Linked DNA regions of Homo sapiens. The protein of the gene in region 1 purifies or fractionates together with the protein of each later gene. This does not show direct contact. Each region holds a gene or a part of one and is shown on either strand. Other genes may lie near its edges.

Region 1 (5,347 bases):
GACAAAATTATTGTTAATTGGAATAACAAATGGGCTGGAGACCTTCTGGTTCTGCTGGTTCTCCTTGGTGATCCTTTGTTCAAGATTTTCTGCTGTACCTGCATAACAAAGATGGAGTAGGCCGGGCGCAGTGGCTCACACCTGTAATCCTAGCACCTTGGGAGGCCGAGATGGGCGGATCACAAAGTCAGGAGATTGAGACTATCCTGGCTAACACGATGAAACCCCGTCTCTACTGAAAATACAAAAAAATTAGCCGGGCGTGGTGGCGGGCGCCTGCAGTCCCAGTTACTCGGGAGGCTGAGGCAGGAGAATGGCATGAACCCAGGAGGCGGAGCTTGCATTGAGCCGAGATCATGCCACTGCACTCCAGCCTGGGCGACAGAGCAAGACTCCATCTCAAATAAATACATAAATAAAATAAAGTTGGAGTAGAATATATATTTTTTTTCTTGAGGGGGAGTCTGTAGCCCAGGCTGGAGTGCAGTGGTGCTATCTCAGCTCACTGCAAGCTCCGCCTCCTGGGTTCACACTATTCTCCTGCCTCAGCCTCCTGAGTAGCTGGGACTACAGGCGCCCGCCACCACGCCCGGCTAATTTTTTTGTATTTTTAGTAGAGACGGGGTTTCACCATGTTAGCCAGGATGGTCTCGATCTCCTGACCTCGTGATCCGCCTGCGTGGGCCTCCCAAAGTGCTGGGATTATAGGCGTGAGCTACTGCGCCTGGCAAGATGGAGTAGAAATCTTAACAAAAGGAAATGTTTTAAAAATTCTATTTAGGGCTGGGCGCGGTGGCTCACGCCTGTAATCCCAGCACTTTGGGAGGCCGAGGCAGGTGGATCACGAGGTCAGGAGATCGAGACCATCTTGGCTAACATGGTGAAACCCCGTCTCTACAAAAAATACAAAAAAATGACCCCGGCATAGTGACGGGCGCCTGTAGTCCCAGCTGCTCAGGAGGCTGAGGCAGGAGAATGGCGTGAACCCGGGAAGCAGGAAGCAGAGCTTGCAGTGAGCTGAGATCCGGCCACTGCACTCCAGCCTGGGTGACAGAGCGAGACTCTGTCTCAAAAAAAAAAATTATTTAGCTATCTTGTTAATAAAATCAGGTTTAGCGGCTACTTTAAAGACATGCCAGTCATAACCTCGCTGAGACGATGACTGAAGATGACCAAGTCCTTTTTAGTTCAGAGTGGCCAGTGGCCGTTGCTGGCAGAGCTGTGGTCTCTGGAAAAGGAGCGGAGAGCACCTCTGAATAATGAATTCTTGGGTGTGCTTTTACCTGTGCCGCCATCATTCAAATTTACTCATAAAAGAGTAGACTCAGAAGAGAGTCAAAAGGAAGTAAATTTAAGGTGACATCTATTATGGATATCATGAATATGGATATCATGAAGTTAATTTAGACATAGACCTTCAATTTCCTTTTTTTTTTTTTTTGTTGAAGTCGGAGTCTCCCTCTGTCGCCCAGGCTGGAGTGCAATGACACGATCTTGGCTCACTGCAACCTCTGCATCCCAGGTTGAAGCGATTCTCCTTCAAACCCTCCGAGTAGCTGGGACTACAGGCGCCTGCCACCACTCCCAGCTAACTTTTTTTTTTTTTTTTTTTTTTTTTTTTTTTTTTTTTTGAGATGGAGTCTCACTCTGTCGCCCAGGCTGGAGTGCAGTGGCGCGATTTCAGCTCACTGCAACCTCCGCCTCCCGGGTTCATGCCATTCTCCTGCCTCAGCCTCCTGAGTAACTGGGACTACAGGCACCCGCTACCACGCCCGGCTAATTTTTGGTGCTTTTAGTAGAGTCAGGGTTTCACCGTGTTGGCCAGATGGCCTCGATCTCCTGACCTCGTGATCCGCCCGCCTCGGCCTCCCAAAGTGCTGGGATTACAGGCGTGAGCCACCGCGCCCGGCCAAATTTTTTGTATTTTTAGTAGAGATGGGGTTTGACTGTGTTGGCCAGGGTGGTCTCGATCTCCTGACCTCGTGATCTGCCCGCCTTGGCCTCCCAAAGTGCTGGGATTACAGGCGTGAGCCACCACGCCCAGCCTGCTTGTTGCAGAAATTCTTACTGTAGAAAATGAAAGTGGTCTCTCAGAGGTACCATTTTGGTGTCCGTCTGTCTCCATGTGTTCACGCATGCATCGGGGATAAGCTCTTGTTCTGTTGTCTGCTCCATAGTTAGTATTCACATCATTAGTTTCCTTTTTTTGCCACGAGATGGCTTATTTTCATTATTCATACAAATAATTTTCTATAATACCCCAGTCAAACGGGAGAATTTGGCAGTCCGATTTTGGGGTGGGGGGGGTCCCTGCAGAGACTCACAGACTGGTGGCATTGGCGCTGAGTGCCCAGGTTCACAGCACAGCTTGTGGCTTGTGTCCATCTTGCATGTGGCTCTTCCTCCATGTCATGACTGGGGTCTCGGGGGTAACGGGCAGGAAATCCTTCAGACTCTTAGGAAATTTCACTCCACTTCTCCTGGCCTCTGGTCGGCAGGGTGTTCTTCCATGTCTCGGTTTTCTAGCTTGGCCTTATTGAAGTTGGAATTTATGTCTGTTGTCATTTTCCCTTTTTTTTTTGTTTTTTTTTTCAAGCCAGAGTAAGGCTGGAGTGCAGTGGCGTGATCATAGCTCACCACTTCACCCTTGAATATCTGGGCTAAAACGATCCTCCTGCCTCAGCGCCCCAAAGCATTTGGATTACAGGTGTGAGGCACCGCACCCAGAGCATTTTTGCTTTTGAAAATTACCTGTTTATGTCCTTTGTCTATTGATTTGGGTTTATTTAGAGAGTTTTAATACTCAGAAACTCTGTGTGATAGTGCTTTTCTGTTACACTGGGAAAGCTTGTGAAAGTCAGATTTAGAGAGTCTTTTAGGCGTTAAAAATGATGTGAAAAGCGTAGGAAATGCTTATGGTAAGTGAAAAAAGCAGGAAAATTGTATGCAGTTGGGTAGGGCTACATAAAACTGCACAGGAAAGCTGAAATAAAATTGTCAGAAGGAATTGTAGTTAACTGAGCAGGCACAGTAGCTAGCTGATCAGTGAACCTCGCCCCTTTTAAAAATTTTGGGCCTGGCAAGGTGGCTCTTCGGCCTATAGTCCAGCACTTTGGGAGGCTGAGGGAGGAGGATTGCTTGAGCCCAGGAGTTTGAGCCCTGGGCAACACAGTGAGACCCGCTATCATTACAAAACATTTTAAAACTTAGCCACATGTGGTTGCACATGCCTGTCATTCTGGCTGCTTGGGAGACGGGGCAGCAAGATCACTTGAGCCCAAGAGGTTGAGGCTGTGGTGAGCTATGACTGTGAGCTGTGACTGCGCCACTGAACTCCTGGCTGGACGACAAACCAAGTCTCTGTCTCTAAAAACAGACACAGTAACAATTTCACCCTATTGAAAATCAGCGTGGACTCTATTTTCCTGATAAATCCAAGTGATAGTAAGTGTCGACATGTTAGCGTTCTCTGGGGTGATCATCTTTGGTGTTAGAGACTAAATTGTTTCAAATACCAGAGTCCTGGGAGTCCTCATGTTTCAGGGCAGCGCCAGAAGACTCCGCCGTACGTTTCCACAGAGCCTCCTGCGCTTGGTGCTCCAAGGATTAAAGTGTCCCCTTGGAACCAGTTAGGTTTTTTGTTTGTTTGTTTTGTGGCTTTTTGTTTTTGTTTTTTTGTTTTTTTCTTTTATTTTATTTTTTGAGACGGAGTCTCATTCTGTCGCCCAGGCTGGAGTGCAGTGGCAAGATCTCGGCTCACTGCAGCCTCTGCCTCCCGAGTTCAAGCGATTCTCCTGCCTCAGCCTCCTGCGTAGCTGGGACTACAGACATGCACCACCATGTCCAGCTAATTTTTTTGTATTTTTAGTAGAGACGGGGTTTCACCATGTTGGCCAGGCTGGTCTCAACCTCCTGACCTCAGGTGATCTGCCTGCCTTGGCTTCCCAAAGTGCTGGGATTACAGGCGTGAGCCACCGTGCCTGGCCTTATTTATTTATTTATTTTTACAGACAGGGTCTTACTGTGTTGCCCAGGCTGGTATTGAACTCCTGGCCTCCCAAGTAGCTGGGATTACAGGCATGAGCCACCACGCCTGGCTAGTTTTGTATTTTTAGTAGAGACGGGGTTTCTCCATGTTGGTCAGGCTAGTCTCAAACTCCCGACCTCAAGTGATCCGTCCTCCTCCGCCTCCCAAAGTGTTGGGATTACAGGCGTGAGCCACCATGCCCCGCCTGATGGCTTCTTTATGATAGTTTTTTGGAGTTTTTTTGAGACAGAGTCTCACTTTGTCACCCAGGCGGGAGTGCAGTGGCACCATCACGGGGCCCACTGCGACCTCCACCTCCCGGGTTCAAGCGATTCTCCAGCCTCAGCCTCCGGAGTAACTGGGATTACAGGCGCGCACCACCACGCCTGGCTTTTTTTATTTTTTTATTTTTTTTTTAAAGTAGAGACGGGGTTTTGTCATGTTGGCCAGGCTGGTCTCAAACTCCTGAGCTGAAGTGATCCACCTGCTTGGTCTCCCAAAGTGCTGGGATTACAAGCCCTCTGATAGATTTTTGGTACTTGTAAAGACAGTTGTTTGGCATACCAGACAAATACTTGTCTGGAAGATTAGTTTACAAAGGCGTTGGCCCTTCAGGCGAAGCCTGTTGGTGTCAGGAGTGTTTTCCAAGCTGTCCTTGCTTTTATGTAAGAAACGCTGTTGAGTCGCAAGCTGGCTGCCCTGTCGGTTGCATCAGTTTGGGAGAAATACTGCTTCTGTTGCTAAATAGCCTTTTTGCCATTCGTGAACCTTTTGTTGGGGGAAAAACAAACTGCATTTTGTTTTTAAATAGGCTAACTTAAAGGAACGTCCAGCAGGTGGTGAGTTCTTGTTGGTGTTGGGAGGCAGGCTGTCTCCTTTGGCTGCTGTGATCACGCTGATCCTGGGCTTCTTTGTGCGATTTTTTTTTTTTTTTTTGAAACAGAGTATCGCTCTGTTTCCCAGGCTGGAGTGCAATGGCGCGATCTCGGCTCACTGCAACCTCCGCTTCCGGGGTTCACGCAATTCTCCTGCCTCAGCCTCCCGAATAGCTGGGATTACAGGCGTGTGCCACCATGACTAATTTTTGTATTTTTAGTAGAGATAGGGTTTCACCATGTTGGCCAGGCTGTTGTCGAACTCCTGACCTCAAGTGAGCCACCGCGTCCGGCCCTTGTTTGTGCTTTGACGGAACATATTTTATTGTATGTTGTCTGAATTGGTAAGGAAGTCATTTTAGGCTTGTTGTTTCTCACGTGTGCTCCCTGTGGTATGCCTTGTGTCTGGGCCTCCGTCACCCTCTCAGTCACAACCAACAGTTGA
Region 2 (3,500 bases), on another chromosome or scaffold:
TCTTGTGTTGATGAGAACATATGCTTCCCTGATTAACTGAAGTTTTACTATTCAATTAGCAAAACTGTCTGTGGTTACTATGCGAAAAAGCTGGGACAAAAATCCATTATAAGTATGTGGCCATATAAATATCCTCTCCTTAATAATTTCTGAAATTCTTCTCTTTTATTATTATTTTTTTTTGAGATGGAGTTTCACTTCTGTTGCCCAAGCTGGAGTGCAATGGCGTGCTTTTGGCTCACTGCAACTTCCGCCTCCAGGGTTCAAGTTATTCTCCTTCCTCAGCCTCCCAAGTAGCTGAGATTACAGGCATGCACCACCCGGCCGGCTAAGTTTTTGTATTTTTAGTAGAAACAGGGTTTCACCATATTAGCCAGACTGGTCCCGAACTCCTGACCTCAGGCGATCCACCTACCTCGGCCTCCCAAAGTGCTGGGATTACAGGCCTGAACCACCATGCCCAGCCAATAATAATTTCTGAAATTCTAAGCTGAGTTCTTGAACTTAAATTAATAGTTTGCGACCAGGCACAGTGGCTAATGCCGGTAATCCCAGCACTTTGGGAGGCCGAGGCGGGCAGATCACTTGAGGTCAGGAGTTCGAGACCAGCCTGACCAAGATGGTGAAACCCCATCTCTACTAAAATTACAAAGATTAGCCAGGCATGGTGGTGCATGCCTGTAATCCCAGCTACTCAGGAGGCTGAGGCAGGAGAATCACTTGAACCTGGGAGGCGGAGGTTGCAGTGAGCCAAGATCGCACCATTGCATTAGAGCTTGGGCAACAAGAGTGAAACTCCGTCTCAAAAAAAAAACAAAAAAAACAAAAAGAGTTAAGTGAGGCTGGGTGCGGTGGCTCATGCCTGCAATCCCAGCACTTTGGGAGGTGGAGGAGGGCAGATCACCTGAGGTCAGGAGTTTAAGACCAGCCTGGCCAACATGGTGAAAGTGTGTCTCTACTAAAAATAAAAAAATTAGCCAGGTGTGGTGGTAGACACCTGTAATCCCAGCTACTCAGGAGGCTGAGGCAGGAGAGTTGCTTGAACCGGGCGGTGGAGGTCGCAGTGAGCCGAGGTTGCGCCAGTGCACTCCAGCCTGGGCAACAGAGCGAGACTACATCTCCAAAAGAAAAAAAATAGTATGCAGGATAGCTATTAAAAATCAACTTATGGCCGGGCGTGGTGGCTCACCCCTGTAATCTCAGCACTTTGGGAGGCCGAGGTGGGCGGATCACCTGAGGTTGGGAGTTCGAGACCACCCTAACCAACATAGAGAAACCCCATCTCTACCAAAAATACAAAATAAGCTGGGAGTGGTGGCACATGCCTGTAATCCCAGCTACTCGGGAGGCTGAGGCAGGAGAATCGCTTGAACCTGGGAGGCAGAGGTTGTGGTGAGCCGGAGATTGCGTCATTGCACTCCAGCCTGGGCAACAAGAGCAAAACTCCATCTAAAAAAAGAAAATCAAGTTACTTGTGTCTACTGTTCTTTTTTGTTTTTGTTCTTGTTTTTATTTTTAGGCAGGGTCTCACTCTGTCACCCAGACTGGAGTGCAGTGGCATGATCTCATCAAGGTCAACCTCCTGTGCCCAAGTGATCCTCCCATGTCACCCCTCAAGTAGCTGGGACTACAGGCTCATGCCACCACCCCTGGCTTTTTTTTTTTTTTGTATTTTTTATAGAGAACGGTGTTTTGCCATGTTGCCCAGGCTGATCTTGAACTCCTGAGCTCAAACGATTTGCCTGCCTTGGCCTCCCTAAGTGCTGGGATTACAGGTGTGTGCCATCACACATGGCCTTCTTTTCTGTTTAAAATGTGTGTACACACCATATATTTAAGTGTACCTTATACCACATTTTTTGTAGCTATGGAGAGCACAGGTAGTAATAATTGAAATTCATAGGTAATCATAATTTTAGCTCTTAGTTTTGCTCTTCTGCCCCAGTGTAGTCTTCAATCCAGAATTGGTGAATAATTTTGAATATTCTGTCTTTACCCTTAAAAAGATTCAAGAAGTAGTCCTTTGGATTGTGTTCTTGTAGGCATGTTCACCAGATTGATGCAGTGCTGTTGTCTCACCCTGATCCTCTCCACCTTGGTGCCCTCCCGTATGCTGTCGGAAAGTTGGGTCTGAACTGTGCTATCTATGCAACCATTCCTGTTTATAAAATGGGACAGATGTTCATGTATGATCTTTATCAGGTAATTTAAGCAATTAAAAAAATTTTGTTAGCACTCCTTCAGTGATTGTTTTTCACCTTTATTTGTGTTATTCTTTTAGTCTCGACACAATACAGAAGATTTTACACTCTTTACATTAGATGATGTGGATGCAGCCTTTGATAAAATACAGCAGCTAAAATTCTCTCAGATTGTGAATTTGAAAGGTAAAAAGAATTTCCAGTAGTAAGTATTTAGATGAATGGGGTTTAACTTGCTGGAAAATACCGAGGAGAATTCAGAGAGAAAATTATAGGCATTATAGGCTGAAGAATAAAAAAGTTAGCACATTCTGCCTTGATACAGAACTCTTAACTTCCATTTGAATTTTAAAATATTTCAGAAAAAATGCTAACAGAATGTTAATAGCTCAGGCCTTTTCATATTTAACTTGGGAAAAACTCATTTAGTGTTTACTGTGTACAATAAACAAAAGATAATGTGGCCATTTCCTCTTCCTCAGAGCTTACAGTTAGATTGAGGCAACAAAGTAGCTGAGATGGCTAAATGTAGTGATTGGGGTAAATGAAGTGCTATGGCAGCAGAGTAGATAATGAATTCTAGCATTGGACGTTAAAAAGTTTATTATTGAATTAGGAAGTCCTATACTAAGTCTATATTTATCATCTACAGAGATAATTGTATTAGATATTTTCATAGATATGAACCCTGGCATTGATAAAATGGTGCAATAATGGACTCTGAAGATTTAGCCCAGAAATAACAACAGTCTCAACAGTTTTGCTTCTAGTTAATTTTTCTGCAGGATAAATTCTTTAGCACAATGAGATTTAAATTATTCTGTTAGTTTAGACGTTAGCAAAAATGGAAACATTTGGTAACTGTATATACAAAATACACATTAAAATTTGCTAGTTCATACTAAATAATTTAATAGTGTACTAGCTTTTAAATCTAATCTCTAGCCTTGTACTTATAAGCACAAATAACTCTACAAGATTACATAATATAGTAACAAGAATGTTTGCCTCTAGTGAGGGAGTGGAGTAGGTGGGGGACAGGAGAGTGAAGCCTGCTTTCACTATATGCATTTTTACTTTTGAAATTTGTATTATTGCATATACAGTATTACCTATTAAAATATTATAGTTGAGAAATAAATAACCTTTCTTTAGGGTTGTAAAAGAAATCTGAGTATTGTTATCTTGTTGACATAGGTAAAGGACATGGCCTGTCTATCACACCTCTGCCAGCTGGTCATATGATAGGTGGAACAATATGGAAAATAGTCAAAGATGGAGAAGAAGAAATTGTTTATG
Region 3 (3,500 bases), on another chromosome or scaffold:
ACTGTGCACACACAGCAGGTTTCATGAGAAGCTGGAGCACTGGCTCATGGTTGTTAGGAGGCACCAGCTGACCTGTTTCCTGTATAGGCTCAACCTCCTCAGAAGTGGACACCCATTACTTCTCGCTGTTTCTGTGTGATCTCCATTTCACATTTCTAAAGGGTGGATCTTTTGGGGTCACTCGCTATTTTCTAATACAGAATGCTCCCGTCAAGCTCCCTTATTGATAACTGATATCTCTTATGTCCTGCCAGCAGTGCACGATTGGCTTTGAGACTGCCTGATCCACTCACTCGTAACCAGCCAAGTACTATGACCCAAACTATAGCAGAATTTGGCACAAACAGGTCCCTGGTAGCTACTTTCCTCAGGAAGGCCTATGGATTTGGAAAACACAGGTGTCTCATAAGGACATACTCATAAATTGTTTTCATGTACAATAATTCTTGTGTGTACTTTCCTCCTGTTGTCATCAAAGTGGTCACATATTAAAACTTTTCTGCTAAATATGAATCCTCATGTTTAATGGCAGAGAACCCACCATTCCCAGCACACTTACTTCTGTCTCTGGACTAATCTTGAGTAATTGGTTTTCCTTTGCTTAGGTCTTATTGAAGTTAAAACAGATGAGTTTCCTCGCCATGGGAGCAACATAGAAGCCATGTCCAAGCTAAAGCCTTACTTTCTTACTGATGGAACGGGAACAGTCACCCCAGCCAATGCTTCAGGTTAGATTTTCTGAAGGACATCTGGGGGAATACTATGTTCTATAATGTCTACCGAGTGAATATTTTTCTCTTTATTTATATACAAAAGTACTATTTTTTGGGACAGGGACTCACTCTGCCAGCCAGGTTCGTGTGCAGCAATATGATCATTGCTCACTTGCAGCCTCAAACTCCTGGGCTCAAGTGAGCCCCCTGCCTTAACCTCCCAAGTAGCTGGGGGACTACAGGCATGAGCCACCACACCCAACTCAATATTTATGTACAAAATTATTCTTAAAACAGTTTAAGGAAACATGTCATTTCTCTGTATTTGATCATTGACTTAACCTATACTGAAAGAATTAATTTGGTTTCTTGACATCCCAACTAGACATACAAATGAAGAAGTAAATTAGGGAACTTCAGTTTATCTACCTTTGTATTTTTCCAGTACCAGAAACTCCCAATACCTCCTTGTGAAGCCCAGGCTTATTCTTCCATTTCCTGTCAGAGATCTCCCCTCCCCAACTGCTGTAATCCTTTTTTTTTCTTTTTGAGACGGAGCCTCACTCTGTCGCCCAGGCTGGAGTGCAGTGGTGCAATCTTGGCTCACTGCAATCTCCGCCTCCCAGGTTCAAGCAATTCTCCTGTCTCAGCCTCCTGAGTGGCTGGGACTACAGGCGCACACCACCACACCGGCTGATTTTTCTATTTTAAGTAGAGATGGCTTTCACCCTATTGGTCAGGCTGGTCTCAAACTCCTGACCTCAGGTGATTCACCCTCCTCCACCTCCCAAAGTGCTGGGATTACAGGCGTGAGCCACCACGCCCAGCCCCGACTACTGTAATCCTACCACTTTCTCTAGTTGGAAAGTTTTGTGGTCAATATATTGCCAAACATAATTTCTATGTAAAGTCTGTTGAATTATAGTAAATGCCTTAGCCAACAGGTAAAATCATTTAACTCATGTCTTCAGGTGGTAAAGAAGCCACAGATATGTAACTGAGGTTAATAAGCATGGTAGAAATTAAGTCACTCATATTTTACAGGAATAAATGATGGTGCTGCAGCTGTCGTTCTTATGAAGAAGTCAGAAGCTGATAAACGTGGGCTTACACCTTTAGCACGGATAGTTTCCTGGTCCCAAGTGGGTGTGGAGCCTTCCATTATGGGAATAGGACCAATTCCAGCCATAAAGCAAGCTGTGAGTATAACCCTATTCCCTTTTATGAAATTTGTCTTCCTGTTAGCCTTAAGTGAGCTTATTCATGTAGTTAGCTCTAGTCTTTCCCTACCAGAAGAGTAACCAAGAGCATTTATTTCTATTTTTGAGATAAGGTCTTGCTCTGTTGTCCAGGCTGGAGTGCAGTGGCACCATCATAGCTCACTGCAGCCTCAAAACTCCTAGGCTCAAATATTCCTCCTGCCTTAGCCTCCCATTACCTCGAACTACAGGTGCACCACGCCTTCTTCATTTCGTAGAGACAAGGTCTATGTCGCCCAGGCTGGTTTTGAACTCCTGAGTTCAATTGATCCTCTTGCCTTAGGCTCCCCAAGTGTTGAGATTTCAGGTGTGAGCCACTACCCCCAGCCACTGAGAGCATTTGGATCACATGCTTTCTAGGGGAACTGATTCTGTTACATTAGCCTTAGGTACACATAACAGATGCTACTGGTTCAAAATTTTAAGACAATTTAGAATTTCTAAGGGATCTTTTAGATCACACCCTTAACCTTTTGGATGGAATGGATGTCACTAAGGCAAAAATGTGTGAGAATGTCACTGTATTAACCTAAGAACAAACCAAAGTAGCAGTTACCAGTATCATGCAGCATATATTTATGTTGACAAAGAATGGTTTAACTTTAGCCTTTCCACCCAAGTTTAGACCTCTTTTCTATGAATCTTTCCTCTAGGTTACAAAAGCAGGTTGGTCACTGGAAGATGTTGACATATTTGAAATCAATGAAGCCTTTGCAGCTGTCTCTGCTGCAATAGTTAAAGAACTTGGATTAAACCCAGAGAAGGTAAAGATGCACAAGTAACCCTGAGAGCTTACCAGTGAATTTCACAATCCAATTTTAAGATAGTATCTTCTAGGTGTTGGCCATGTGGGTAATAGTTAAAGAAATACTAGTTACTAGGACTGAGTTCATTACTTCCCAAGGTTTAAAAAAAAAAAAAAAAAAAAAAAAAGACATTGGCTTACTTGGCATAAAAGGAACGAGGTAAGATAGGCAGGGATGAATTTTCACAAAGGTGTAAATTTATTCCTAAGCAGTTAAAATGAAAATTTGAGTTTGAAAGGGTAGCATGCTGATACATTAAGAGGAAAAAGACAAGTTTAAGATTTTAAACTGTGTCCACAGAAGAATAAACAATCTAAATCTTTTCTCCCCCGTTAGGTCAATATTGAAGGAGGGGCTATAGCCTTGGGCCACCCTCTTGGAGCATCTGGCTGTCGAATTCTTGTGACCCTGTTACACACACTGGAGAGAATGGGCAGAAGTCGTGGTGTTGCAGCCCTGTGCATTGGGGGTGGGATGGGAATAGCAATGTGTGTTCAGAGAGAATGAATTGCTTAAACTTTGAACAACCTCAATTTCTTTTTAAACTAATAAAGTACTAGGTTGCAATATGTGAAATCAGAGGACCAAAGTACAGATGGAAACCATTTCCTACATCACAAAAACCCAAGTTTACAGCTTGTACTTTACTTTAATGTGTAATACTCAACTCAAGGTACAAGACAATTGCATTTAACATTGTTATAAATAAAAGGAACATCAGA
Region 4 (3,500 bases), on another chromosome or scaffold:
AAAACCAGCTTTACCAGATAAGGGGTAAAATGTTCAAAAGCTGCCAGACACGGTGACTCATGCCTGTAATCCCAGCACTTTGGGAGGCTGAGGTGGGAGGATTGCTTGAGCCCAGGAGTTCGAAACCAGCCTGAGCAACATGGTGAAACCCCGTCTGTACCAAACATACAAAAATTAGCTGGGTGTAGTGGCGTGTACCTGTAGTCCTAGCTACTCAGGAGGCTAAGGCAGGAGGATCAATTGAGTTGGGAGGTTGAGGCTGCAGTGAGTCGAGATCATGCCACTGCATTCCAGCCTGGGCAACAGAGCGAGTCCCTGTCTCAGAAGAATGTTGAAAAGCTTAGGCTGCAGGCTCTGAAGGTGATTCCTTAATGGATAGGAGGGTCTGGAGCACTCTTGGCCAGGGCCACACCTGACAGACCGGAGCACATCCCTGAGGTTGCCCGAGGTCACCCAGCTTTGGATGCCGCAGCTGGTGTTGAAATCCACACTGCGCAGCCTCGTGGCCTCCGTGTCTGTCTGTCCTCCGCCTCCCGTCTCACTCTTTCCTCCTCGGTTGCCTCTTCTTTCGGCCTGGTTCTTGGGGAAATCCCTCAGCCCTCGGCGAGAGGGTTCCCAGGCGTTGCGTCTCCCCGCGGAGCCCGCCCCGGTCTCTCCCTCCCCTCACGCCCCGCCTTTCTCTCCAGAACATCAAACGCATCAAGAAGAAGCTGAGCCTTCTGTGCATCGACTTCAACAAGAACCTGAACGAGGACACGACCTTCCTGCCCTTCACGCTCCAGGAGCTAGGTAGGGGCCGAGCAGTGGGGCACGGGTGGCCATCGGTCCTGGGACTCAGTGCAGGCCTGCCAGGCCCTCGGGGGCCGCCGCTTCCTCCTGTGGGCTTCTGTGCTGAAGGGCGGCGGGAGGCCGAAGTACGTGGACCTGACCGCCCTGGGCTGAGGACTTTCCTCACCGGAAGCGCTCCAGGGCCGTTTACAGCCAAAAGCTCTGAGCCCTCCTTGGGGAGGGCCATGGTCTGTCCCACCAAGATTCCACCCTGATAGAAAATGTCCCTGGCAGTGGCGGAAGCCCAGGCCGGACGGGGTGGCCAAGGGTGCCAGTCTCAGCCATGGCCCTGAGGGAACCACAATTTTCCCTTGAGACCCCACTTCCTGCCTGCCTTTATTTATTTAATTTAATTAATTAATTAATTTATTTTGAGATGGAGTCTTGCTCTGTTGCCCAGGCTGGAGTGCAGTGGTGCGACCTCCACTCACTGCAACCTCCGTCCCCCGGGTTCAAGTGATTCTCCTGTCTCAGCCTCCTGAGTAGCTGGGACTACAGACGTATGCCATCACACCTGGCAAATTTTTTTATTTTTAGTAGAGACGGTTTCGCCGTGTTGGCCAGGGTGGTCTCAGACTCCTGGGCTCAGGATCTGCCTGCCTCAACCTCCCAAAGTTCTGGGATTACAGGCATGAGCCACCGTGCCCAGGCAGGCCGGAATATTCTGATGGGTGCTATAGAATATAACCTCCAGTTCTAGACTCTGAATGTAGTTGCCTCTGAGGTGGTGGGTGGGGACAAGGCCCTCATGGCCGGAGGCCTCCGCAGGTGGCTTGATGTGTGGTCACCTGGGCGTATGTTTCCTGAGGGAACACTCGCAGGTCGGGCACTGCCAAGCTTGGCTGCCAGCCACTTGCTCAGCCCTCCCGTGTCTCGGGCAGCACATCCTACCCTCAGCTTCTGGCACTCAGGAGAGACGACGGGCTACAATCTGCCGTAAAGCACGTTTCCCAGCCTGCCCCTCAGTGGGTGCACTGATCACCCGCACCATTCCCGCAGCCACCCACGCCATCCCGCGGCCACCCGCACCGTCCCCGCGGCCACCCGCACCATCCCCGTGGGGCTGCTTCTCCTGCCTGCTCGTGTTAGCAAGCAGAAGGACTCGGTGCCTGATGTTCTAGAAGCCAATGCCATGGCACCAAGGATTTGAGGAAACAAAAGCTTCTCATTGCAAGTGACTCCCAAGGAGACTGGGCGTCCAGCTCAAATCTGCCTCCTGTGCCAGCTTTCAGGCAGTACTTTCATGAGAGAAGGTGCAGAGGTGGATTCTGGGATTAGCAGGTGATTGTTGGAAGGAAAGGGGAGGTCTGGAAGGTCCTTGGGCACGCACAGTTATCTGTCCGTGCCAGCTCGTGGGTCCTGGGTGTGAATCCTGGGGAAGTCTGTATGAAGCGCGGTGGAAGTTCAGTTGGCATCAGCCAGCTGGTTCTGCACAGACTCTGCTGGCTCATGTGGGTTCCAGCCGGTTTCAGCCAGTTTTGTTCTTGTCGGCGTTTCAGCTGCCTGTTTCTTTTCACGTTTGCCATCCTGCAAACTCGAATGTTTGTGGATTTTGGTGTCTAACTCTTTGGGGTGCCGTTCCATTTGTCGGGCCTGAGGGGTCTCCCGTGCAGGTGGCTTGAGTCCCATGTGGCCAGGTGACACCGTCATGCGGGTGGCTAGCGTGTTGGGTGACAGTCTCCAGGGCTGTCCGCTGCTGCTGCCCCGGGACCTGTTTCCCTTTGTGGTCCGTCATTTCTCAGGAGACGCCTTGCGATGGTCTTAGTTCCTTTTCTTCTGCTTACAACAGAAAACCTAAGGCCATGTAGTTTATAAGAAAAGGAATTAACTTGTCACAGCTCTGGAGGCTGAGAAGTCCCAGGTCGAGGGGCCATATCTGGCCAGGGCCTTCTTCCTGGTGGGGACTCTGGAGCCCTGAGGCGGCCAGGGTGTCACATGGCAAGGGGAGGGGGCTAAGCGAGCCGGTTCCACCCAGGTCTCTCCTCCTCACAAAGCCCCAGGCCCTCTGCCACATTAACCCATCTGTCCCTTCATCCATGAATCCATGAATGGATTCATCCATTCCTGAAGGCAGAGGCCACATGACCCAGCTGCCTCTTGAAGGCCCCAGTACCTAATCCTGCCATCTCCCAATACCACCATCTCCAACACCGCCATCTCCCGATACCCACATCTCCCAATACCCACATCTCCCGATACCGCTACCTCTCAATACCGCCACCTCCCAACACTGCCATCTCCCGATACCCACATCTCCCAATACTGCTACCTCTCAATACCACCACCTCCAACACCACCATCTCCAACACTGCCACCTCCAACACCACCATCTCCAACACCGCCACCTCCAACACCGCCGTCTCCCGATACCTCCACCTCCGGACACCCCCACCTCCTGACCCACCCACCTCCCAACACCAACACCTCCCGACACACCCACCTCCCGACACCCCCACCTCCCAATACCAACACCTCCCGACACCCCCACTTCCCGACACCCCCACCTCCCGACACCAACACCTCCCAACACCAACACTTCCCCACACCCCCACCTCCCAACACTAACACCTCCTGACACCCCCACCTCCCGACACCCCCACCTCCCAACACCAACACCTCCCGACACCCCCACCTCCCGACACCAACACCTCCCGACACCAACACCTCCCGAC

The links. The genes of interacting proteins can lie anywhere in the genome.
Region 2: the proteins of SSU72 (region 1) and CPSF2 purify together in Homo sapiens (affinity purification with mass spectrometry; one large-scale study listed by BioGRID and IntAct). This does not show direct contact.
Region 3: the proteins of SSU72 (region 1) and ACAT2 fractionate together in Homo sapiens (co-fractionation; one large-scale study listed by BioGRID). This does not show direct contact.
Region 4: the proteins of SSU72 (region 1) and THOP1 fractionate together in Homo sapiens (co-fractionation; one large-scale study listed by BioGRID). This does not show direct contact.

What each region holds. Positions count from the first base shown.
Region 1 is NC_000001.11:1,567,529-1,572,875, reverse strand, and holds part of SSU72 (RNA polymerase II subunit A C-terminal domain phosphatase SSU72), read left to right. Parts: intron 1-5,347. UniProt on the Homo sapiens protein: Protein phosphatase that catalyzes the dephosphorylation of the C-terminal domain of RNA polymerase II. Plays a role in RNA processing and termination. Plays a role in pre-mRNA polyadenylation via its interaction with SYMPK.
Region 2 is NC_000014.9:92,131,969-92,135,468, forward strand, and holds part of CPSF2 (cleavage and polyadenylation specificity factor subunit 2), read left to right. Parts: intron 1-2,042; coding exon 2,043-2,202; intron 2,203-2,281; coding exon 2,282-2,387; intron 2,388-3,398; coding exon 3,399-3,500. UniProt on the Homo sapiens protein: Component of the cleavage and polyadenylation specificity factor (CPSF) complex that play a key role in pre-mRNA 3'-end formation, recognizing the AAUAAA signal sequence and interacting with poly(A) polymerase and other factors to bring about cleavage and poly(A) addition.
Region 3 is NC_000006.12:159,775,545-159,779,044, forward strand, and holds part of ACAT2 (acetyl-CoA acetyltransferase, cytosolic), read left to right. Parts: intron 1-605; coding exon 606-728; intron 729-1,757; coding exon 1,758-1,912; intron 1,913-2,625; coding exon 2,626-2,736; intron 2,737-2,953; exon of another isoform or gene 2,954-3,114; coding exon 3,115-3,285; 3' UTR 3,286-3,500. UniProt on the Homo sapiens protein: Involved in the biosynthetic pathway of cholesterol.
Region 4 is NC_000019.10:2,799,003-2,802,502, forward strand, and holds part of THOP1 (thimet oligopeptidase), read left to right. Parts: intron 1-686; coding exon 687-789; intron 790-3,028; exon of another isoform or gene 3,029-3,500. UniProt on the Homo sapiens protein: Involved in the metabolism of neuropeptides under 20 amino acid residues long. Involved in cytoplasmic peptide degradation. Able to degrade the amyloid-beta precursor protein and generate amyloidogenic fragments.